Linked DNA regions of Homo sapiens. The protein of the gene in region 1 purifies or fractionates together with the protein of each later gene. This does not show direct contact. Each region holds a gene or a part of one and is shown in the gene's direction. Other genes may lie near its edges. The genes, in order: SLC9C1, VPS13A, TMEM217, PPM1L, UFD1, TMEM33 and VPS13C.

Region 1 (4,204 bases):
TTAGCTTTGCAACTTAATTAATTTTTAAATATATATCCACACATGAACCACAACCCACACACAGATATGTGGCATGTATTTCCAACAATGAGAATCCTTTTTTTTTTTTTTTGAAACGGTGTCTCACCCTGTCTCCCAGGCTGGAGTGCAGTGGCGCAATCTCGGCTCACTGCAACCTCCATCTCCCGGGTTCAAGTGATTCTCCTTTCTTAGCCTCCCGGAGCTAGGACTATAGGCGCCTGCCACCATGCCCGGCTAATTTTTGTATTTTTAGTAGAGACGGGGTTTCACCTTGTTGGTCAGGCTGGTCTCGAACTCCTGACCTCAGGTGATCCACCTGCCTCGGCCTCCCAAAGTGCTGGGATTACAGGCATGAGCCACTGCACCTGGCCGAGAATAGATTTTTTAAAGACCCAAGAAAAGGGGCAGCCCAGCAAGACAGAAAATTTCACCAGTAACTGCTCTACTTTAACCAAACACCACAGAAAAGTGTTCACCCACTCCCTGTACCCACATACCAGCAAAGACTGAGTAGGAAGCTTAAACTTCACCCATACCATACAAGATGCCAGAACCCTGCCTGTTTCCCCACCCCAACCAGAGCAGTATCAGAAAAGGCCTTGTGGGAGCTGGAACTTCCATAACAACCAGGCCATAAAGATGCACCCCATGCCTCAGTTGGAGACCATGTAGGGAGCCTGGACTTCTGCTCCAACCCAGCCAAACAAGTTGCCTCCTGCCTTCTTCATCAGGGTAGTATCAGAGGAGGCCAAATGAAGAGTTGGGAATTTTACCACCATTCACTTATAAACGTGTGGGTCGGGAGAAAGAGATGAAACACAGAGAACAAAACATTAAATACAATTTTAAATAACTTTAAGATATTTTATGAGAGTAGGAATGTGAAAAGTTGGCTCTATAGTAATAACTAAGTAATTTCAATTAAAATATTTTTTACATATTATGTTTAGAAAAAACAAATGAGTATATCATTATTCCTGAAAATTTCCTCACATATAACCCAGAGTGAAAGTTCACCTTGTCATCTTGATTTCATTCTCTTACATGCCCACAATATCCATTCACTTTTTCCCTAACCCAGCAACCTGCGTCCTCATATCTCTACCACACTATCTTATCCAGGAAACTTCCTTTTACTAGAATTCTGGGAAAGCAGTGTCCAACAGCTCTTTGTCAGAAATCCACTGTCCCAAAGTCTTAAATTAACACAATGGCGCAATTTCTGTAGGTTCATTTTCACCCCTTATTTGTTTATTTTTAAAAAATAAAACAAAGCCTTAAGCCGTCAAATGCCTGAGATATACAGGAGCAATGACGTTGCATTTCATCAGCCAATCAAGTAAGAGATGATGGGCCTGAAGCTAACCGGTGCAGACTAGGGGCGAGTTTGGAGCAAGTAACTGTCAGTGAGGTTGCAGTTGGTCTGGGCTGTTTGGCTGTGAGCGAAATAGCTGCCCCCCACTTCTCACTTGCACACCACGGGATACTCCTCCTGAGGCTCCGGATGGTGAGCTCTCCAGTCTCTAGTTTCCTTTTCTGGAAGTTGACCTTTCCTACTGGTACTTTCTCTCTCAGTCTCGCCTCCTAGATGAACAAAGGCTCCCACTGTTTTCCTGCTAGAGATTCAGCCACTCCCTCTTGGCGCTTCTGCCTTTCTTGTGGCAGACCATGGAACACTTTCCCAAAGATCAGCTAGCTTCTCGGTTTGAACTTCTACCCCTTAGCTGCTTCCCCTCCTCCATTATGCTTTTTACATCAACTCTTTGTGAACTATCCAGTGGCATGTGTTCCCTTTGCGTTACTGAAACTGAAAAGTCCAGCCCTAGGGGAAAGCTCACTGGTTCAGGGAATCGCCTCAGGTGTGTGGAGCTGATCTTGAGCTGGAGGAAGGGCTCATTCTGAGTGGAGGGGCATTAGGAGGGCAATAGCCCACCCACCTTCAGAGTCAGTAAGATGTCTGCGTTGTGTGGTAGGAGAGTTTACTAAGGAGACAATCCAGCCTCTGGTATCAATATAAAATAAACCATTAAGCATGAGCTTTGTAGCTGTGAAGATTACTGAGATCCCACAGTGCCCTCTTCAGGATGCTTTCTTCACCTAATTCTTGCAAAACGTTCCAATCTGAAGGAAGAAGACTGTTTCCATGTTCAGTAACATGGTAAATTAGTGTGACTTACGGTTCATGAGACAAAATTTCTCAATGCTGGCTGACTGACAAGGACAAATTCATGTCATTTTTGAGAGGGCAGTCATTAATTTCCTCCACACACAAAGAGAATTGAGATATTAGCTAACATGAGAGATATATATATATATATATATTTGAAATAGAGTCTCACTCTGTCACCCAAGCTGGAGTGCAGTGGCACAATCTAGGCTCACTGCAATCTCTGCCTCTTCAATTGATTCTCCTGTCTCAGCCTCCCAAGTAGTTGGGATTACAGGCATGTGCCACCACACCTGGCTAATTTTTTTTTTTTTTTTTTTGTATTTTTAGTAGAGACAGTTTCACTATTTTGGCCAGGCTAGTCTCGAACTCCTGATCTCAAGTGATCCACCCGCCTAGGCCTCCCAAAGTGCTGGGATTACAGGCGTGAGCCACTGTGCTCAGTCAACTAACTTATTGTTAAATTAATGCAGAGGACCTATGTGATAAACCAATATTTTTTTCTTTAATGGGATTTGGACTCACAGACTTTTACAAAGCTGTCAAAAGTCAGCTTAAGATGAAGAGTTCTAATTATATTGAAAACCTGTGGCCGGGCGTGGTGGCTCACGCCTGTAATCCCAGCACTTTGGGAGGCCGAGGCGGGCAGATCACAAGGTCAGGAGATCGAGACCATCCTGGCTAACACAGTGAAACCCCGTCTCTACTAAAAATACAAAAAATTAGCCGGGCGTGGTGGCTGGCGCCTGTAGTCCCAGCTACTCGGGAGGCTGAGGCAGGAGAATGGTGTGAACCCGGGAGGCAGAGCTTGCAGTGAGCCGAGATCGCACCACTGCACTCCAGCCTGGGCGACAGATCATGACTCCGTCTCAAAAAACAAAAAAAAGAAAACCTGTTTATTCTCATAGCTATTTCCTTACCCATACATTTAACATATTAAGCTACAGTAATGTTAGTATTTTTAAAACTATTTTAAGATGACATCTATTCTCAAATAGAGATTTCTTATGAGATTTTGGAGTAGAGGTTGGGGAAGCCAAATGGTATTTATCACATATGCATAGCCAGAGAGATAAATTGTGTTGAATTTGATCATATATATCTCTGAATTTAAGAGTAAACAGGATTCGTGGTAATTTTATTATTATTAATGTGATTATAATTTAACTTTCATGTTCTGGGATACATGTGCAGGTTTGTTATATGGGTAAATTCATGTCATGGAGATTTGTTGTACAAATTATTTAATCACCCAGCTATTAAGCCTGGCACCCATTAGTTATTTTTCCTGATCCTCTCTCTCCTCCCACCATCTACCCTCAAGTAGGCCCCAGTGTATTCCCCTCTATGTGTCCACGTGTTCTGAATATTTAGCTTCCACTTATAAGTGAGAACATGCAGTATTTGGTTTTCTGTTCCTGCATTAGTTTGCTAAGAATAGTGGCTTCCAGCTCCATCCATGTTCCTACAAAGGACATGATCTCATTCTTTTTTATGGCTGCATAGTATTTCATGGTGTATATGTGCCACATTTAGTTTATCTAGTCTACCATTGATGGGCATTTGGGTTGATTCTATGACTTTGCTTTTGTGAACAGTACTGCAATGAATGTACGCATGCATATGTCTTTATGATAGAACAGTTTACATTTCTTTGTGTTTATACCCCGTAATGGGATTGCTGGGTCAAATGTTAGATCTGTTTTTAGGTCTTTGAGGAATCACCACACTGTTTTCCACAGTGGTTGAACTAATTTACATTCCCACCAACAGTGTATAAGCATTCCTTTTTCTCCACAACCTTGTCAGCATCTGTTATTTTTTGACTTTTTAATAGGAGCCATTTTGACTGGTGTGAAATGGTACCTTCCTTGTGGTTTTGATTTGCATTTCTCTAATGATCAGTGATGTTAAGCTTTTTTTTTCATATGCTTGTTGGCAGCATGTATGTCTTCTTTTTAGAAGTGTCTTGTCCTTTGCCTACTTTTTAATGGGGCTGGTTGTTTTTTCTTGTAG
Region 2 (3,500 bases), on another chromosome or scaffold:
TCATTAGAGTGCAATATTTGCTTAGTTTTTTTCCTTTTGAGGTAAAATTTATGTAGAAGAAAATATACAAATCTTAAGTGTACATTGACTGAGTTTTGACAAATACATACACACATGTAACTCAAACCCAGTCAAGATATAGAACATGACCATCACCCCAGAAAGTCTTTTTCCTGACCTTTCCTAATTTATTCCTACCCTCATCTTCAGAGGCAACAAATACTCTAATTTTTTTCTTTCTGTCATACATACACATCTATTCTGCTTTGCTGAGAGTGTTTTCTTTTCCTTCAAGAATGTTGGAGCCAGGCATGATGGCTCATGCCTGTAATTTTAGCACTTTGGGAAGCTGAGGTGGCCAGATCAGTTGAGGCCAGGAGTTCGAGCCCAGCCTGGCCAACATGGTGAGACCCTGTCTCTACTAAAAATACAAAAATTAGCTGGGTGTGGTGGCGGGCACCTGTAGTCCCAGCTACTTGGGAGGCTGAGACACGAGAATCGCTTGAACATGGGAGGCGGAGGTTGCAGTGAGCCGAGATCGTGCTACTGCACTCCAGCCTAGGTGACAGAGCAAGACTCCGTCTCAAAAAAACAAAAACAAAAGAATGCTGGATTTTGTCAAATGTTTTTTTCTGCATCTATTACTATTATCACAGGATTTTTTTCTTTTTTAATCTGTTGGTGTGATACATTACATTAATTGATCTTTGAATGTTGAACTAGCCTTGCATACCTAGAATAAATCCCATTTGGTCATGACGTGTATGTTTAGCACTCAGTATCTCCAGGGGTTTAGTTCCAAGACCTGTGCAGATACCAAAGTCCACAACAGGGAGGGCATGGAAGCTCCCCACCACCTTACTTTGCTCTGTCCATCTCTTTATCTGTATCCTTTGTAATATCCTTTATGATAAACTGTTAAATATAAGTATTTCCCTGAGTTTTGTGAGTTATCCCAGCAAATTATCAAACCAAATAAAATCAGGTGCGAACCCTGATTTATAGCTGGTCAATCAGAAGCACAGATCACAGCCTGCGACTTGTGACTGACATCTGAAGTGAGGGGCAGTCTTATGGAACTGAGCCCTTACCATGTGGGATATGACATTATCTCTTTTTTTTTTTTTGAGACAGAGTCTCGCTCTGTCGCCAGGCTGGAGTGCGGTGGCGCAATTTTGGCTCACTGCAACCTCCGCCTCCCGGGTTCAAGTGATTCTCCTGCCTCAGCCTCCCGAGTAGCTGGGACTACAGGCGCCTGTCACCACACCAGGCTACTTTTTGTATTTTTAGTAGAGACGGAGTTTCACCATGTTGACCAGGATGGTCTTGATCTCTTGACCTTGTGATCCACCTGCCTTGGCCTCCCAAAGTGCTGGGATTACAGGCGTGAGCTACTGCGCCCGGCTCGATATGACACCCTTTCTAGGTAGATAGTGTCATTATTTAATTGAATTATAGTTAGTGTCTGTTGGAGAATTGTTTAGGGATTGGGGGAAAAACTTCACATATCTGGTTATCTAAGGGTTCTGTGTCGAATATGAGAGTAGAGAGAAAAACCTTTATTTTCCTTTGACAGTGTCTTATCATATTTATAGCTGTTTTCTGTTTTGTTATACTTGTTTCCTTTTTAAACAGTCTTCCCCTCCTCTTTTGCCCTCTCTGGTTTTAATTGATCATGTGATATGATTTAATTTTTTTCTCCTGTCTTAGCATACCAATTATGCTTCTTAAACAATTTATTTAAGTGGTTGTATTACAGTTTGTGCTGTTCACTTAAAACTAGTCCAAGTCCACGTCCAAATAACATTATAGGTCAGGTATAGTGGCTCACGCCTGTAATTCCAGCATTTTGGGGGACTGAGGCTGGCGGATCATTTAAGGTTAAGAGTACGAGACCTGCCTGGTCAACATGGTGAAACCCCATCTCTACTAGAAATACAAAAAATTTGCTGAGCATGGTAATGTGCGCCTGTAGTCTCAGCTACTCAGGAGGCTGAGGTATGAGAATCTCTTGAACTGGGAGGCAGTGAGCCGAGATTGTGCCACTTCACTCTAGCCTGGGCGACAGTGCGAAACTCTGTCTCAAAAAACACAAAAACAAAAATCCCACTATACTACTTCATGGAAAATGGAGGTAGTATATGTAATACTCTATCTTACAATACAGTATACAGATTCCTCCCTTCTGCCCATTGTAACATTGTTGTCATTAATTTCACTTACCTATAAGCTGTAATAATCCAATGCATTGCTGCTATTAGTATTTTAGACATTTTTCTATTAATTTAAGAATAAGGAAGAAAAGACTTAATTTACCTTCATCTCTTAATTCTCTAATGCTCCTGTGAATCTGAGTTTTTGGTTTAAATCATTTTCCTTCTTTCTGAAGAACTCCTTTATTTATTTGTTTTTTTTAATTTTTGAGATGGAGTCCTGCTGTGTTGCCCAGCCTGGAGTGCAGTGGCGCAGTCTCTGCTTACTGCAACCTCTGCCTCCTGGGTTCAAGCGATTCTCCTGCCTCAGCCTCCTAAGTAGCTGGGACTACAGATGCATGCCACCATGCCCAGCTAATTTTTGTATTTTTAGTAGAAATGGGGTTTCACTATGTTGACCAGAATGGTCTTGATCTCTTGACCTAGTAATCTGCCCGCCTCGGCCTCCCAAAGTGCTGGGATTACAGGTGTGACCCACCACACCCGGCCTATCTTAACCATTTTAAGTGTACACTTCATGTCATTAAGTACACTTACATTGTGCAACCATCACCACCATTCATCTCCTGACTTCACCATTATTCATCTCCTGAATTCTTCATCTTGCAAAACTGAACCACTTACCCGTTAAGCAATGACTACCCATTCCACCGTCTTCCCAGACCCCAGTAACCGTTATTCTACTTTTGATGTCTGTAAATTCGAATACTTGAAGTATAAGTGGAATTATACAGTATTTGCCATTTGTTATTGGTTTCTTTTACTTGGCATAATGTCCTCAAGGTGCATCCGTGTTGTAGGAAATGTCAGCATTTCAATAATTTTTCAAGCTAAATAGTATCCCATTGTATGTATATACTGCATTTTGTTTCTCCATTCATCTGTTGATGAATAGTTGGGCAGCTTCCACCTTTTGGCTGTTGTGAATAATGGTGTTATGAATGTGGATATTTTTCTTTGAAGTTCAGTCTGTGCTGTCAGATTTTTGGGTTACATACCCAGAAGCAGAATTACTGGATCATATAGTAATTCCATTATCAATTTTTTTGAGGAATTATCATACTACTTTCTATAGTGACTGCACCATTTTACATTCCTACCAACAGTGTACAAAGGTCACCATTTCTCCACATCCTCACCAACATTTATTTTCTCTTTTTTTGATAGTAGTTATCCTAATGGATATGAGGTGGTATCTTGTAGTTTTCATTTACATTTCTCTAATTAGTAATGTTGAACATCTTTTCATGGGCTTATTGACCATTTGTATATCTTAATTGGAGAAAC
Region 3 (3,500 bases), on another chromosome or scaffold:
TTGTTGTCCATCTCCATCCCCTAGAGTAAAGGCCCCCTGTCTGTTGCCTGTTAGGAACCAGGCCGCACAGCAGGAGGTGAGTGGCGGGTGGGCATGCAATCATTACTGCCAGAGCTCCGCCTCCTGTCAGATCAGCAGCAGCAGCAGATTCTCACAGGAGTTTGAACCCTATTGTGAACTGCTCATACAAGGGATCTAGGTTGCATTGCGCACTCCTTATGAGAATCTAATGCCTTGTGATTTGAAGTGGAACTGTTTCATCCTTTAACCCCCCTCCCCCAAAATTTTCATGGAAAAGTTGTCTTCCCTGAAACTGGTCCCAGGTGCCAAAAAGGTTGGGGACTACTGCCCTAGAGATCGTGAACCCCACTAAGACTGGGACTTTGTTTTGTTCCCTGCTGTATCCCCAGCACCTAGAATAGTGTTTGGAACATAGTGAGTGCTTAGTAAATATTTACTGAGTGAAAGAAGGAAGAATATAAATATTTCTTGTCTTTCGATTCTATGTTGTTCACATATTTTTATGTTAGGAAAGATGATAGAAACAGTGTTTCCTAACCCCTAGTAGGATGTGTCCACTTTACCAATGACTCTACATCCTTGCCTACATCCTTGGTTGAAGAACAGTCTTCTCTGAGAAAGATTGTATTCTTCAAACTCTTTTGCAGCTTCAAAGGAATGTGCCTGTACCTGGAATGATGAGGGAGGGAGGCCACCCACCTAGTCAGGAGATCAGTTGGTAGCTGTCATCAAAGGGCTGATAGGTATGGCAGCCACCCTTGCCCAGCAAGAGGTGTAAATCATTGGTTTGAGGTTCCCAAGGGGTCCTTAGAGGCCTTCTGATGGAGGTCCTTCTTGGCAGACATTCACTGGTCCACTAGACCAGTGCTTCCTATACTATATTGCACATGTGAATCACTGAGGATTATATTAAAAACCTAGATTCTGATTCAGGAGGTCTGAGGTGGAGCCTACAACTCAGAATTTCTAACAAGCTCCCAGGTGACACTGATGCTGCTGATCCATGGACCTCACTTTATAGATCTTCTGTTACTAATACAGTATGGCCTGTGATTGTTTACTTTATCTCAAGAGTTTATTTTGAAACTGTAAGTAGAGGCTTCTGCAAGTTTTTACTTTCCCCCCCTCAACTTCATCTTCATTCAAAAGAGGGTTAAACAACTTAAAATGTGGCAAAGTATAGTTAAGGGATGAGATATGCCTGGGTTGACTGTGGACTCAAAAGAGGTAGGCATATCCCAACCCTTAGAGAAAGTTTTATGAAAGAGATAATCCTTGAGTAGGGAGAGAAAAGGAAAGAGAAAGGCCTGAAGAACTATAGGAGGAAAGTCACTTCAGGACAGGAGCTCCAATGGGAAGATAAAAATAGAGAAAAAAGCCTTTGGACTTACAGAGAGATCCCTGGCAGACTTTAACCTTAGTGAAGGAGTGGAGTGGAAGGAAGGAAGTAGACACTGTGATGAGGGGAAGGGTTAAGAAATGAGAGCAAGAAGCAGCCCTCACAATGCACTGTGCAATGTTGGGCCACCTAAGAGATAGTGAGGTCAAGCTGGGATTTAACAGCAAGAGAGCTTTATAGTATCTAAACAACCACTGTTAGAGCCAATGGCAGAGATCAGTTATATTAGAGAAGGCAAGGGGATAAGCAAAAAGACTGAAAAAGTAAGAGGTTATAGGAATAAAGAGAGGAAGAGAAAGTTTTTAGAATTTGGGGGGTGAAGGGAAAACTAGGTATTTCATTCCTAAGAATTTATTCTAAGAAAAGAAGTCACCATACCTGGCAAGAAGAAAGGGGGAAATCTCTGTGTACAAAGATATTCTTTGCCTTGCAACCAATAATAAACAGGGGAAAATGAAAAGAATATGAAGATTTAAACATGAGAAGAAGTTATGTAAATTATGGTGTGCAGTTTATAAACTTGAACCATGTTATACCATTAAAGAGGGCAAATTTGAATGCTACATAGCACATCAAAAAGGTGTATGAAATGTACAGCAGGGAAAAGGTAGAATATAAAATATCTTTGCATGATTTCAATAAGAATATATGGGTTTTGTCAAAGATTGGAAGAAAACGTGGAAAAATTAAGCAAATTTTGGTAGAGGGTAGAATTATATACATCTTGGTACTTCTGGAACTTTTCTTTAATGTTACCGTTTTTTAATATTATAAAATATACATCACCTGGGTAACAGTAGCTCACACCTGCAATCCCAGCACTTTGGGAGGCTGAGGCAGGTGGATCACTTGAGCTCAGGAGTTCGAGACCAGCCTGGGCAACATGACAAAACCCCATCTCTATCAAAAATACAAAAAATTAGTGGAGTGTGGTGGCACACACCTGTGGTCCCAGCTACTCAGAGGCTGAGGTGGGAGGATCACTTGAGCCCAGGAGGCGGGGGTTGCAGGGAGCCGAGATTGTGCCATTGCACTCCAGCCTGGGTGACAGAGTGAGACCCTGTCAAAAAAAAAAAAAAAAAAAAAATATATATATATATATATATACACACACATACACACACACACACACACATACACGTACACGTGCACACACACACCCCTCACACCCCTCACAACATATACATGTTGACATATATATGCATGTGTGTGTGCATATATATATGCATACATGTATATGTATGTTATGTATGTATACATGTATGTATGTATGTCAACCAGGGGTTGACAAACTTCTTGTATCAAAGGCAGGATTGTAGATATTTTTAGGCTTTGCCAGCCATATGGTCTCTCTTGCAGCTATTCATCTCTGCCATTGTAGTGTGAAAACAACCATAGACAATAAATAAGCTCTCGGGGCTGTGTAATAATAAAACTTATTTTATCCACATTGAAATTTGAACTTTATGTTACATGTCATGGAATATTATTCTTCTTTCAAGTTTTTCAACAATTAAAAAATGTAAAATCCAGGCCAGGCGCAGTGGCTCACGCCTGTAATCCCAGCACTTTGGGAGGCCGAGGCAGGCGGATCACCTGAGGTCAGGAGTTCGAGACCGGCCTGACCAACATGGAGAAACCCTGGCTCTATTAAAATTACAAAATTAGCTGGGCATGGTGGCGCATGCCTGTAATCCCAGCTACTCGGGAGGCTGAGGCAGAAGAATTGCTTGAACCTGGGAGGTGGAGGTTGCAGTGAGCCGAGATTGTGCCATTGCACTCCAGCCTGGGCAACAAGAGTGAAACTCCATCTCATAAAAAAAATTAAAAATGTAAAATCCATTTTTATCTCCTAGGTCATATAAAAATAGCATACCAGATTTGGCCCATCATTGGTAATTTGCCATCTCCTGCAATAAATAATAAAGAACAAATAAGAAAAAGATTAATAAACAAAAAATCTTAAAATATAATTAAAGTTCCATTTTGTTCCTCTCTGATCTCATTCCCCTCCGTCTCTCCAGTGGAAACCACGATCCTGAGTTACATGTTCAGCATTCCCATGCATGTTTTAGAGTTT
Region 4 (2,586 bases), about 49 Mb from region 1:
TCCCATATCATCCCACCTTTCATGTTTTATGTACATAGTTAAGTTTGGCATGTTATCTCTTGCCTAAAATGTGAGGCCTTCCTGTAGTTCCACAGTAGTTACTCTTGGCTGCAGAAATAGGTTTGGGAAGCTATGAGAGATTACCCCAAAGTCATGGATGAAACAAATCTAGTCGAAAACATGGTACAGAGTGAATTAAGGCAAAAGTCATTAACTTAAAATTACATCCAATATTTAGGAATAGCTCATCCTCTGCACATTATCCAAAATATTTTAAAAAACTAAAAGTAAGATCTCTTAGGCTAGGTGGCGGATTGCAAAGGGCAGGGGGCAGTTGATACCATGAAGCTTCCAATAGATGCATTTCTAAACATTTTTTCTAATATGTAAATTTGCTGATCCTTAGTAATGTTAATGCTTTGTCTATTTGTTATTTTTACCACTGTTGAACAGCAAACTGTTGAGGCTAGGGTTGATTATTGATAATTTTTATGTGTTTAGTAATAACCACAGCATCATACGTACAACTGCTTTAATAAATCCAAGTTAAGGACTTTGAGGAGAGCATGTAGCAAGTATTCATTTTAACAAATCATCACAGACAGTTTCCCTGTTCAAAGCTCCACCAAAAAGCAAGCATGCAGCAAAGGCATAGACTGTATTTAGAGATGTGGTTTCATTTATTCTTGAAGTCCTATAACCTTGCATTATTTAAACACAAAATCCCACCTAACATTTGCCAAATCCAAGTTAATCTCAAAAACCTCCGAGGACATTGAGCACAAGCAGATTACTGTAAGGGCACTGGTGGCAGATTGTGGTGGAGAGAGGGCTGAGTGACCCAGAGCAAAGCCTGCCCGGGTTACTCGCTGCCACTTCAGGAGAGGGATTGTATCAGCTCTCATTACCTTTTGTCATGAGGCAGTTCATAAATTAAATATGATATCATGCATTATCTCAAAATATTTCTATATTAATTAGATAATTCACGATGTAAAACGTGTTCATGCAGAAGCAAAGGCGGATGTAATAGTCAAGTATCAGGGAAAAACCCCTTTAGGATACCCAGACATTAAAAATGTAAAAAGTAGCTTATAAGAAATGTGGATTATCAGATTTTTACTATATATAGGTTGTGTTTAATAGTAATTTCTGACACCTGCACATAGATGAAGAAAAGGCAGTTGTTACCACTTTTCACCATTCAAAAAATGGGCTTGTCTCTTAGAGTATTGGTTAATGCTTTGCTTATTTGTTAATGAAGACAGCATTTTAATTTTAAAGCTTCCTTTTGTAGGACTGATGGCACGGGCAGAATCACATTTAAGAAAAATGGTTTGGAACACTTTTTAATAAAAAATTGTAAAATCAGTTTCCAGTGTGGTCAAAATTAGAATGTAAAGGAAAGCATTTTTAAGAAAATACAGAAGCCCAAATCAAGGGAGAGTAATATAAAAGGAAATATTTTAAATTAAGAAAAGGAGGTGTTATAGTTTATTACATCATGAATTATGCTTTCTGTACTTACGCTCTTAGTGAAGGAGATAACATTGAAGTGAGAAAATGAACATTCTCAGTTATTTGCGAAGTTAGTAAAATTGCAGTCCCTATTCCATTTTTTTCTGATGAAAATGGATACATGAGATCTCATTTATTGCTCTCCTCAACACCTTTACTGTCCCAGATTCCATTCACGTTCCAAATCGTGGACAGTAAAACTGAAGTCAGATAAACACAGTCACAGGTACAACTGGGAGCGAGTTTTAACATAGTGGTAATTTTGCAAATGCCAACATGAATACTAGTGAGTACTCAATTTACGACAGACAATTTCACAAAAACCAACCACAGAGTGATTTGATATTCTTGCTTCTTAGAGAGTTTTCTAATCCATATAATGCAATGGGTCAGGTTGCTCATATGATTAAAAAAATTAATCCTGTAGAAATGATGTATTAGACATCTCTAACCCAAGAAAAAGATGTCTTTTGTATAACTTTTAAATTCCCATTTGTCTATCTTAGGACAAATGATGACTTCTTCGTGTAGTAATGAAAACGTCTAAATCCTGCTCTGTGGAGAAAAGCTAGAACCATGGGACATTAAGCAAGAATACTCCTCTGATTTAGGCTCCCAGACTACAACTAACAGTCTTTATGTATTTATCATCTTGGTTATTGTTTTATCTCAAGCATATACAGTGTGCAGAAAGTAGAATAATGAATAAAATATGACCATGGAGAAAACCCATAACTTTTGCTTCTATTATAGAAAGCAGTGTTTGTTCTTTTTAATTTATTACATGTTCACATTGAAACATTAACATCTACAATATTGTCTTTCAGTTTACTCTTCAATTACTAAAGCAAATGATTTTGATTTATAGCACTTACACAACTGCAGTTCAGGTCACAGAATTGAAATCTATTTGATAATGTCTCAGCATTCTCATGGGCAGCCAGGAAAAAAAAAAAGAGAGAGAAAGACAAATAGAAATTTTAGTGGGTTCAGATAAATGATTATTCTGACAAACCTGGAAAATAGTAATTAAACAGTTCATTCCAAAAGACCCCAATGTAAACTCTG
Region 5 (3,500 bases), on another chromosome or scaffold:
CCTGGGGATGCCAGACCCCCGTTACCAAAGCCAGTCACCTCTGCATCCTTCTGTGCCTGCCTGTGGCATTTGGTAGAGTGACCACCCTCTATTTCTGCCCTTACTAGCCTGACAAGCAGCTGTCAGCGTGAGTGCATGGGGTCCTCTGCAAGCCTATCCATAGGGCCCACCACTCAGGCTTCACTCATGGCCTAGGCACGGCTTCCCAGGCACAGCCTCGGCCTCAGCATGCCTCTCCCTCCTCATGAGCTCCCTCTCATTTGTGACACAGCCCTCAGCCCCCTTTTCCCTTGGCTGTTAAAGTCACCTTCTCACTGCCACTCCCGATGAAACATTCTTGAAGGGATGTGATACCTGGGATTTGCTTCAGGGCATCTAATGTGGCTTGGGACTGGGTGTGAGGTAGTGCTGATCGATGGACTGAGCCACGACGTGAGCACTGTCCAACTGTCAGGGCTCGGTGCGTGGGAGCTCTCTTCTACGGCTCTTTCTACTGATGTATATGTCTGACACCCCTTTTAAGACGGTTTCAAATAAGACAAGCAAAATTTCATTGCAAGAGACATAGAGCTTCTGACCTGAGTCTGGACTCCCTGCACACCCAGTACTCATGGGCATTGTTTATCTCTTTCCGTCTCACTTCTCAGCCGTCGTCTACCTGGCTGGGTTGTTTAATAGAGACATGTGGAGGCTTTGTCAGATTTTTATAACCTCCTTAGCAGAGACCTCTGGGGTCTGTCACCATCTTGCAGCCTCAGCTGTGGTGGGCCATTCCATTGCCAGGTCAGCCTTGCCTTGTGCTGCTTTTGTCCTACCTCAGGTGCAGCCCTACTTGACGCAGGGCCTTATAATTTGCTTGTGGGACAGCTTGGAAGTACAGTGAGTGACTATTCCAGGAAAATGCTCTGCCCCTGGGAAGCCTGGAGCTAGTGAGTAATCCGGGCAGCCCTGCAGAGATGCGTTCACACTGTGAGCTATACAGCTTCAGTAGCACCCCTTTATTGGCCTTCTTCCTTCCACATCACTTGATTTTTCCCTCCTTCCTGACATAGTATCACGAATTACTTATCTTGGCTCAGGTTCCTCTTCCAAGGACCCAAGTAAGACGGGCCTGCCCAGTGTATAGGGAGCAGTGGTTGTGGAGGCTGCTTCATCTCTAGGAGTCTCATGTAGCCTCTTCTTCCTTTCAGATGATGCAGAACTTACTCTTGGAAGAAGGCGGCCTGGTCCAGGTGGAGAGCGTCAACCTTCAAGTGGCCACCTACTCCAAATTCCAACCTCAGAGCCCTGACTTCCTGGACATCACCAACCCCAAAGCCGTGTATCTTTTTCAAATAAGCGGAGTTCTTCTAGACAAAGGAGAGTGTGCTGGCGGTTGTTAAACATCATGTACTGTATTGAATCTGTGCCTGCTTTGGGGATCACACATTTGTGATTCAAGTTGTGATTTGAGAATAATGGGGTTCAGCTAGCACATCTGCGTGGCCCTGGCCAAGTGCACTGGGTGCTGTCTGGGCCACCTCTGTCACTTTCCAGACACTTCATGGAGACCACAATGAAGCCCTTCTTTCAGTTGGTCTGTGTCACCTGGCACAAAGCCAGGATGCACAGTATGTCCAGTGGAAGGAGGGAGCAGCTTATCTGCCTTCAGCTCCAGCCCCTTCTGTGGCTCCCTAGTACCTCCGCCCAGCTGTGCACTGGCCCGTCAACCTCACTGCATGCCAGCCTGAGAGCTGATTCACTCCAGGCCAATAGGTAGCAATGACTGCAGTTTCTATGTCACCAAGCAGAAAGCAAAGGTATCAGGTTCTAGTGGATTCTTTTTGTTCACCTCTGAACTTAAGCCAGGTGTATGTGTTGACAGCATCAGGAAGTAGGCAGTGCAGGTACGGGACGGTGCTGTGTGCACCAATCAAGATCTCTAGCTCCATGGCCCTGATTTTTCCTGTTACGATCATGGCATAAGAGTGGCCACTCCATTCTACTTCTTTTTTTTTATTTTTTTTTAATGCATACTTGAAAAAAAAAACAAACAGTCAAACAACACAGACAGATAGGAAGTTAAGAAAAGCTGCCTCCTTTCCCAGTAGCGCTCTCTCCGCATGTTTTCTTAGGAGCAAGGCACTGCTGGGTGTGCTCTGGATGCATATGGGCCATGTATATTCTTTGCTGCCTATGTTCTGGACACGATGGCCTTGTTGAGCCTCCTGTCCCACAGGCAGGGGGATGTCCTATGGGAAGAGCTAGTTAACTTGTCCTTCAGAGCTCTGACCTAGACATGCTTGTTTGGCTGTCAGTGACCAGGAATGGGCCATGCCCATTTTCTCAGGGTTTTTACATGTGTTGCAATGCAGACTTTTTTTTGAGACGGAGTCTCACTCTGCTGCTCAGGTTGGAGTGCAGTGGCACGGTCTCAGCTCACTGCAAACTCTGCCTCCCAGATTCAAGTGATTCTCCTGCCTCAGCCTCCTGAGTAGCTGGGATTACAGGTGTGCACCACCACACCCGGCTAATTTTTGTATTTTTAGTAGAGACGGAGTTTCACCATGTTGCCTAAGCTGGTCTCGAACTCCTGACCTCAGGTGCTCCACCTGCCTCAGCCTCCCAAAGTGCTGGGATTACGTGCATGAGCCACCGCGCCCTGCCCCAATGCAGACTTATCAGGTTGATCTCAGATGCTGTTTTGTCAGCACAATTAACTTGTTAGTGTGTGGAGAAAGGGCGTCACTTCCATCAGTTGAGAGCCTGGTGTTTTCTGGTCTGGCTGAGGTCTGGATGAAAGCAGTCTTGGCACCGAGCAGAGAAAGTGGGAAGCTGGTGCTGCAGCAGGTGCCAGAGTACGCAGAGGCCATATGGGGAGCCCGCCCTGCCTGCAGAGGCCTCGTGTTCTCAGCCTGAGGGCTCTGGCTCTGCTCCTCCAGCTGCTGCAGTGGAAGTCAGAGAAGATGCCCTGGCAGGGTCACTAGAGGAGTGGAGGGAAGGGCACTTCGTACCGTGGCACTTCATATTTGGGAGCAAAGAAAGCATCCACCACATAAGGCGCTTTTCACAAAGTTGCTCTGGTTCTGGAAAGCTGTTTGACCAAGCGAGGTGAACCTAGATAGCCTCACCCTTTCACCCTCAAGTTGGACTCACAGTGGCAGGCTCTGGAGCCACATTTCATGTGACCTTTTTATGTAAAGTCCTTCAGCAAATTGATGAGGAAGACATGGCAAAATATTCCACATGAATAGACATTTCCTTGTGTGGGCATTTGGGTTCTACAGTTTTACTGTTATAAAAAGTATTTGCTGGTTTCTTTATTTTAATTTCTATTAACTAAAGTTATCAGCTCAAAAGATAGAAACAACAGAAGTATAAATGAAAGCATCTTTGATTTTGAGGAACTTTTGAGAGGACCTATCTGACTCATTAAATCTTTTTTGTTCTTTAGTACTCCCACAGGATTTTTTAAAATCCCATGGTATAATTTGTATACAATAAAATGCACACAGTTCAGC
Region 6 (3,500 bases), on another chromosome or scaffold:
ATCTTTTAGATTTATAGAAGAGTCAGAAATGTACAAGAGAGTTTTTTTGTTGTTGTTTTTGTTTTTTGAGACAGAGTCTGTCTCTGTCGCCAAGGCTGGAGTGCAGTGGCGCAATCCTGGCTCACTGTAGCCTCTGCCTCCTGGGTTCAAGTGCTTCTCCTGCCTCAGCCTCCCGAGTAGCTGGGACTACAGGTGCACGCCACCACGCCTGTAGTCCCAGCTGTATTGTAAAAATACAAAATTTTAGTATTTTTAGTAGAGACAGGGTTTCACCATGTTGGCCAGGATGGTCTCGATCTCCTGACCTCGTGATCTGCCTGCCTCGGCCTCCCAAAGTGCCGGGATTACAGGTGTGAGCCACCGCGCCCTGCCAAGAAGAGTTCTTTTGCATACCCTTTACTCAGGTCCTCTCATGTTAACGTTTTACATAACTGTAGAACATTTATCTAAAGTAAGATATTAGCCCAGAACAATACTACTAACTGAAGTATAAAACTTATTTGAATTTCAACAGTTTTTTTTTCATTTCTTATTTTCCTTTTGTGTGCTCTGTTTATACCATGATCCATGATTTTTTTAAAATCATGATTGTCTTTTAAAGATCTGTGTGTCTCTGTTTTGAGTTTTTCCTGTTTATTTTGAAAAGTACTGTTGGTCAAGATAATTGGTCAATAATCCATGTTGGTTTTAACAAAAAGCATTTTAACATTAAAAATATTACAGTATAAAATAACACTCTGTGCTTTAAATTGAGGTTTTATGTCATTTTAGCAGAATTATAATATTTCTGATATACTCATGTTTGACAAGTTGAAACAGATTTGTTTCTTAAAGGAAGGTTTAATATACAAAAAAAGGTAATCTTAAACTTACGAAAAAGTAAATTTTACAATTTGAGCATTACTAGATGTTTAGTTTGCATGAACTCATAGTTAGAAATTCTGCAATAGGAATATCTACAACCGGCTGATTTGGAATTTGAAATTATAGTGTTACATGTATACCTATCAAATTAAAATTAAGGAAATACAATAGCAATATATAGAATGAATGTAGTAACAGAAATTAACTCTTTACTGCATCATTGAACTTATTGTTAGTTACAGGTTTAAAAGAAGTTCATTTAACATCCAGTGTGTCTAATTCTTCTGGAAGTGGTGTAGTACCATTGTTCTTCTGGCATTTTTAAATATTAAACCTTTTTGGATAGATGGAAGCCTTATACAAAATCTACTTTATTTTAGCAAGGATTCTCTGTCCTTTTGTATAGTTGGTACCTTACTAATTTAAACTCTAATATCAATCTAAAGAGAAATTTATTATGCAATTTGTATTTAGGTTTTTTTTTTTTTTTTTGGAATGAAGTTCAGAGGTAGATCCTCCTGGAAGAAAGAAAGCAAGCGAACTTTTTAAAGAAAATTAGACTTGAATATTTAAGAATGTCCCTTACAGAGAAAAGGCCAACTATAATACTAAGCTAAAAGTTATGAAAAATTAATAGGTTCTTTTATAGAGCTAAGAATGATGAAACCATCAATACTTCCTTCTTCCTAAAAATCCAGATCAAAACTTCAGGTTAGGTTTCTAAGTTTAGGACATGAATATTATTTTTTTCTGGAAAAGAAGATGAGTATATGTGTAATAAGACAAGTAGAACTGAGAGATTTAGTTTTTTTTTTTTTTAAGTTTTAGTTCAGAATAACATTAATTTTGAGAGATTGAGGTAAAGAACCTTAACTAATGCTAAGGAGTTTATTTTGATTAACATAGGTTATTCTGACCACCACCTCTTCCTTCCTTAATCTCCTTAGAATCTGACAGTCTCAAAGCTGTCACACAAATTAGACTAATTTTGACACTTTGAAATGAAAACTTCAAGGAAGAAGTAGCCACGGACAGTTATGTTTATAATCAGTAGGTGGCACTCTTTCCTCAGGTAGCCCCCCATTTTCACATGATGTGTTTGAAGGTTAAATGCCACCAAAAGTGCTGAGTCAGCTATAAAACTAAGTCCCTGAATTCCATGGCCCTTTTAAATATGTAATCATTCAAGATTGAAAAAAAAAATTAAGCATTTTTTGTTTGTTTGCTTGTTTGTTTTTGAGACGGAGTTTCACTCTTGTTGGCCAGGCTGGAGTGCAATGGCGCCATCTCAGCTCACTGCAACCTCTGCCTCCCGGATTCAAGCAATTCTCCTTCAGCCCTCCAAGTAGCTGGGGTTACAGGTGCCCGCCACCATGCCCAGCTAGTTTTTGTATTTTTAGTAGAGATGAGGTTTCACCATGTTGGCCAGGCTGGTCTTGAACTCCTGACCTCGTGATCCCCCCACCTCGGCCTTCCAAAGTGCTGGATTACAGGCGTGAGCCACTGTGCCTGGCTTGCATTTTTAAAATACTGAATTATTCAAAAGAAGTACCCTGTCAATATGTGCTTTCTAGGAAAACAGTAAAATAGGCCACAATTTGGAGTGACACCATTCAGATCAAGGTCTATCCAGTTTTTTCTTTTCATGCTAAGTGCCTACATCACCGAAACACACTAATATAAAATTATCCTTTCTCCTTCATTTTCAGATGTGTAAAAAATGGTACTTAAAGTGTTTTCATGATCATTTTGTAGGTAGACTAGATATAGCCCGTTGAACCTCTTTTAAAATTTAGACTTTTGATAGTAATATAAAAGCATATTGAAATTTGTAGATATTATATGAGGAATGGCACCTAGATTTGAAAATTATGCTTGGCTTGTAGAGACAACTAGTTTCTCTCGCTCTTTTTTTTTTTTTTTTTTTTTTTTTTGAGACAGATTCTCACTCAGTTGCCCAGGCTGGAGTGCAGTGGTGCAGTCTTGGCTCACTGCAACCTCTGCCTCCTGGGTTAAAGCGATTCTCATGCCTCAGCCTCCCTAGTAGCTGAGACTACAGGCGTGCACCACCACGCCCAGCTAATTTTTGTATTTTTAGTAGAGACAGGATTTCACCATGTTCACCATGTTGGTCAGGCTGGTCTTGAACTCCTGGCCTCAAGTGATCTGCCCGCCTCGACCTCCCAGAGTGCTGGGATTATAGGTGTGAGCCACTAAGCCTGGCTGAGACAACTAGTTTCCCTTAACTCATTGGAATTCTCTAGGATTAGGAGAATTCCACAGAGCCTATATGATATTATAGCTCAACATTTAGTATACCAAAGGCATACCCGTGTAAATCTAGGAGTTATTTCCAGAGATTGTTTTAAGGAGCAGTCTTATATTCAGGGTAGAAAGTTATGATTGGATCTGCTGTTAAGGAGAACAAAGGAGCTTCTAAAGGTTTGGGAGGTTTACTGGTAGTAACTATTCTAGGAAATATTTATGTTTTAAGGTGATGTTCACATGGGTTCTTTAGAAGGAACATAGTCAAGTGTGATGGATTAACTCTATATAGTCTTTCTCCTCTTGTGCGTGTAGGAAATCTGACCTGCAGTGTCAGTTGATGTGACAAGAGATAAAGAAAGCACAGTATT
Region 7 (3,500 bases), on another chromosome or scaffold:
AAAAAAGTCACCCCAAAATAAAATAATGTAATGGAAAGAAAGATCTTATTTATGGTAGGTCTGTAGAAATTATAATAATACACTCTTTTTTTCAGGACTGGATTCCTCCCTTTCTCTCCAGTCAAGAAAGCAGTCACTTTTTGCCCGACTAGAAAATATTATTGTCACAGATGTTGATCCAAAGACAGTTCATAAGAAAGTAGGTGATTGTAAACAGATAGTTAATATTCTTTAATGACTGAATATGAGCTTCTATTGTAAAATGTATTTTATTTTAAAAACATTAATGAAATATATTTCAATAGAAAAATTTTTTTATAAAGATTATAAATGTAAAGCCTTTTGTAAATGAGATTTTATTTTGTCATTACCTTCCCGGATAGAGTACATTCAAGTCTCTGTTTTTCAGGCTGTGTCAATAATGGGAAATGAAGTTTTCCGTTTTAATTTGGATTTGTATCCAGATGCTACTGAGGGGGATTTGTATACTGACATGTCCAAAGTGGATGGTGTGCTGTCTCTGAATGTTGGCTGTATTCAGATTGTCTATCTTCATAAATTCCTTATGTCACTTCTGGTAAAATAATTATTTGTATATTGATTTTTCAACTTTGAAATATTTTAAAAGTGTGATAATTATGATGGCAAATGTTATAAACCTTGGATTTTAGAGTGGGCATTATTTTAATTATATTTATGCGTGAATGTAGAGATCAAAACCCCTATTTAACAGTTGAAAAGTGAATCATTTAATGATTTTTGTCTAGAACAAATTATTTTTGCTACAATATAATGAAGCCAGATTCTTTAGTATAAAAATTATTGGAAAAAAATTTTTCTCTGTTCCTTAACCATATAACATTAGCTCAGTTCAGGCAGCTCATAGTTATAGATGGATTATCCGTAATTTCTTAATACTGCTAGAAAAATAGGGCTCAATGGAAAGTTAAATATTGGAAAAAAAAAGTTACCACATGTATGAAAAGAAGATAGTGTTATTATTGATGTGCCTGTATTCTCTTTGAATTTCTCTTTTTATGCTTTGTGTCCACAGAACTTCCTGAATAATTTCCAGACAGCCAAAGAGTCTCTGAGTGCTGCCACTGCCCAGGCTGCAGAAAGGGCTGCCACAAGTGTGAAAGATCTTGCCCAGAGGAGTTTTCGTGTTTCCATCAATATTGATTTGAAAGCACCGGTTATAGTCATCCCACAGTCTTCTATTTCCACCAATGCAGTAGTGGTAGATCTTGGGTTAATCAGAGTTCATAATCAGTTCAGTCTGGTGTCTGATGAAGACTACTTAAATCCTCCAGTAATTGATAGAATGGATGTGCAGCTAACAAAGCTTACACTTTATAGGTATGCTCTTTCAATAATTATGGATTTAAATATTATATTCATGATTTCCATGAAATTTTATGACTTGAAATTCCTACCCAACACAGTTTATTCAAATAAACTGTTCCATTACACGGAACAGTTTTTTTTATTGTTGTCATTGTTTTGTGTGTGTGTGTGTGTGTGTGTGTGTGTGTGTGTGTGTGTGTGTGTGTTTTGAGTTGGAGTCTTGGTCTGTCACCCAGGATGGAGTGCAGTGGCGTGATCTCGGCTCACTGCAACCTCTGCCTCCTGGGTTCAAGCAATCCTCCTGCCTCAGCCTCCCGAGTAGCTGGGACTATAGACATGTGCTACCATGCCTGGCTAATTTTTTTTGTATTTTTAATAGAAATGGGGTTTCACCATGTTGGCCAGGCTGGTCTCAAACTCCTCACCTCAGGTGATCCACCTGCTTTGGACCCCCAAAGTGCTGGGATTACAGGTGTGAGCCACCGCGCCTGGCCCAGAAGAGTTTTTTATTTTGTGTTTTGAGATGAAGTCTTGCTCTGTCGCCCAGGCTGGAGTGCAATGGTGCAGTCTTGGCTCACTGCAACTTCTGCATCCTGGATTCAAGTGATTCTCCTGCCTCAGCCTCCTGAGTAACTGGGACTATAGGCACGTGCCATCATGCCTGGCTAATTTTTTTGTATTTTTCGTTATAGAGATGGGGTTTCACCATGTTGGCCAGGCTAGTCTCAAACTCCTGATATCAGGTGTTCTGCCCATCTTGGCCTCCCAAAGTGCTGAGATTACAGGCATGAGCCATCGCACCAGGCCACCAGAACAGTTTTTTAATCAACTTTTGTTTTAAAAAATTTCAGACCTACAGAAAAATGGAAAAAAATAGTACTGTGAATGCACCTACATATCCTTCATCTAGATTCACCAGTTGTTTATATTTGCTTTAACCTATCTATAAACATATACATATTATTTAAAACATTTTTTGCTAAATCATTTGAGAATAGACATCTTTAACTTTTTGTCCCTAAATACTTTATCATATGTCTCCTATAAACAAGGACATTCATTCTCTTATATTAACTATGATATAATTCTAGAAATTTAATATCGATGTAATACTATAATCTGAAATTCAGTCAATATTCAGATTTTACCAGTTGTCCCATTATAATAATTCGCATTATAGGAATGTCCATTATAAAAATTTCTCCCTGATTCAGGATCACCCATAGCGTATAATTGTATTCTGTACTATTGAGGAAGATTTCTGTACTGACAGAAATTTATTTTGGAGTAGTTCTTCAGCTTTTCTTTGTCTTTTTATGACTACATGACTACTACTGTAGTTTTGAAGACTACAGTCCGGTTCCACTCACCTCTCAATTTGGTTGTGTCTGAGTGATTCCTCATGGTTTGATTGAACTTACACATTTTTGGCAGGCATGTTGTGTAAATTATTTTGTATCTTCAGTGCTCATACCAGGTGGCACATGAAATCTGTACATAATTCATTTTAAAATTATTTTCTACCCCATCCATGAAGATTTAATTATGTAGAATAAAAAATTAATGACTACAAGGCAAGTCTAGAAAATAATCCTAGAGAAAACCTTTATGAAATGCCTTGGAAAATGCTAACTCCTCTTGTTCACTTTGCCATCATTTTCTTCAGTCTCTGCACCAACATACCTATTAATCCTTGAACAACTGTATATGATGATTTTCTGTATTTCTTCAATGGTGTGGATTGCTTTTAAAAACTTATTCAATTTTTCACCTATCTACTGTTTAAAGAAAAAAGTTTTCTTAATGGTTCATTGTATATCACCTTTTAATTTGTCCCTTCTAGTGGATTATAGATTAATTATAGGTTCAGTTTTGAAAATACTCAAGCCACACTGTTTCAGATCAGTATTTAGAGCAGCAAATAACTGCTTGACTTTGCTTTTTTTTAATATGTTGCATTTCTACCCTATATCTATGCATTATGTAACATTTCTGTTTTTCGTAGGACAGTGATCCAGCCAGGCATCTACCATCCTGATATTCAGCTGTTGCACCCAATTAACTTGGAATTTCTTGTAAATCGGAATCTAGCTGCATCTTGGTACCACAAGGTGCCTGTTGTGGAAATTAAAGGACATCTTGATTCAATGAAT

Evidence for each region.
Region 2: the proteins of SLC9C1 (region 1) and VPS13A purify together in Homo sapiens (affinity purification with mass spectrometry; one large-scale study listed by BioGRID and IntAct). This does not show direct contact.
Region 3: the proteins of SLC9C1 (region 1) and TMEM217 purify together in Homo sapiens (affinity purification with mass spectrometry; one large-scale study listed by BioGRID and IntAct). This does not show direct contact.
Region 4: the proteins of SLC9C1 (region 1) and PPM1L purify together in Homo sapiens (affinity purification with mass spectrometry; one large-scale study listed by BioGRID and IntAct). This does not show direct contact.
Region 5: the proteins of SLC9C1 (region 1) and UFD1 purify together in Homo sapiens (affinity purification with mass spectrometry; one large-scale study listed by BioGRID and IntAct). This does not show direct contact.
Region 6: the proteins of SLC9C1 (region 1) and TMEM33 purify together in Homo sapiens (affinity purification with mass spectrometry; one large-scale study listed by BioGRID and IntAct). This does not show direct contact.
Region 7: the proteins of SLC9C1 (region 1) and VPS13C purify together in Homo sapiens (affinity purification with mass spectrometry; one large-scale study listed by BioGRID and IntAct). This does not show direct contact.

What each region holds. Positions count from the first base shown.
Region 1 is NC_000003.12:112,291,417-112,295,620, reverse strand, and holds the start of SLC9C1 (solute carrier family 9 member C1), read left to right. Parts: upstream 1-1,404; 5' UTR 1,405-1,528; intron 1,529-4,204. UniProt on the Homo sapiens protein: Sperm-specific solute carrier involved in intracellular pH regulation of spermatozoa. Required for sperm motility and fertility.
Region 2 is NC_000009.12:77,184,034-77,187,533, forward strand, and holds part of VPS13A (intermembrane lipid transfer protein VPS13A), read left to right. Parts: intron 1-3,500. UniProt on the Homo sapiens protein: Mediates the transfer of lipids between membranes at organelle contact sites. Binds phospholipids. Required for the formation or stabilization of ER-mitochondria contact sites which enable transfer of lipids between the ER and mitochondria.
Region 3 is NC_000006.12:37,251,645-37,255,144, reverse strand, and holds part of TMEM217 (transmembrane protein 217), read left to right. Parts: intron 1-3,500.
Region 4 is NC_000003.12:161,074,231-161,076,816, forward strand, and holds part of PPM1L (protein phosphatase 1L), read left to right. Parts: 3' UTR 1-2,586. UniProt on the Homo sapiens protein: Acts as a suppressor of the SAPK signaling pathways by associating with and dephosphorylating MAP3K7/TAK1 and MAP3K5, and by attenuating the association between MAP3K7/TAK1 and MAP2K4 or MAP2K6.
Region 5 is NC_000022.11:19,465,694-19,469,193, reverse strand, and holds part of UFD1 (ubiquitin recognition factor in ER-associated degradation protein 1), read left to right. Parts: intron 1-1,190; coding exon 1,191-1,321; intron 1,322-3,500. UniProt on the Homo sapiens protein: Essential component of the ubiquitin-dependent proteolytic pathway which degrades ubiquitin fusion proteins.
Region 6 is NC_000004.12:41,955,929-41,959,428, forward strand, and holds part of TMEM33 (transmembrane protein 33), read left to right. Parts: 3' UTR 1-3,500. UniProt on the Homo sapiens protein: Acts as a regulator of the tubular endoplasmic reticulum (ER) network by modulating intracellular calcium homeostasis. Mechanistically, stimulates PKD2 calcium-dependent activity. Suppresses the RTN3/4-induced formation of the ER tubules.
Region 7 is NC_000015.10:61,959,448-61,962,947, reverse strand, and holds part of VPS13C (intermembrane lipid transfer protein VPS13C), read left to right. Parts: intron 1-95; coding exon 96-199; intron 200-409; coding exon 410-577; intron 578-1,054; coding exon 1,055-1,359; intron 1,360-3,352; coding exon 3,353-3,500. UniProt on the Homo sapiens protein: Mediates the transfer of lipids between membranes at organelle contact sites. Necessary for proper mitochondrial function and maintenance of mitochondrial transmembrane potential.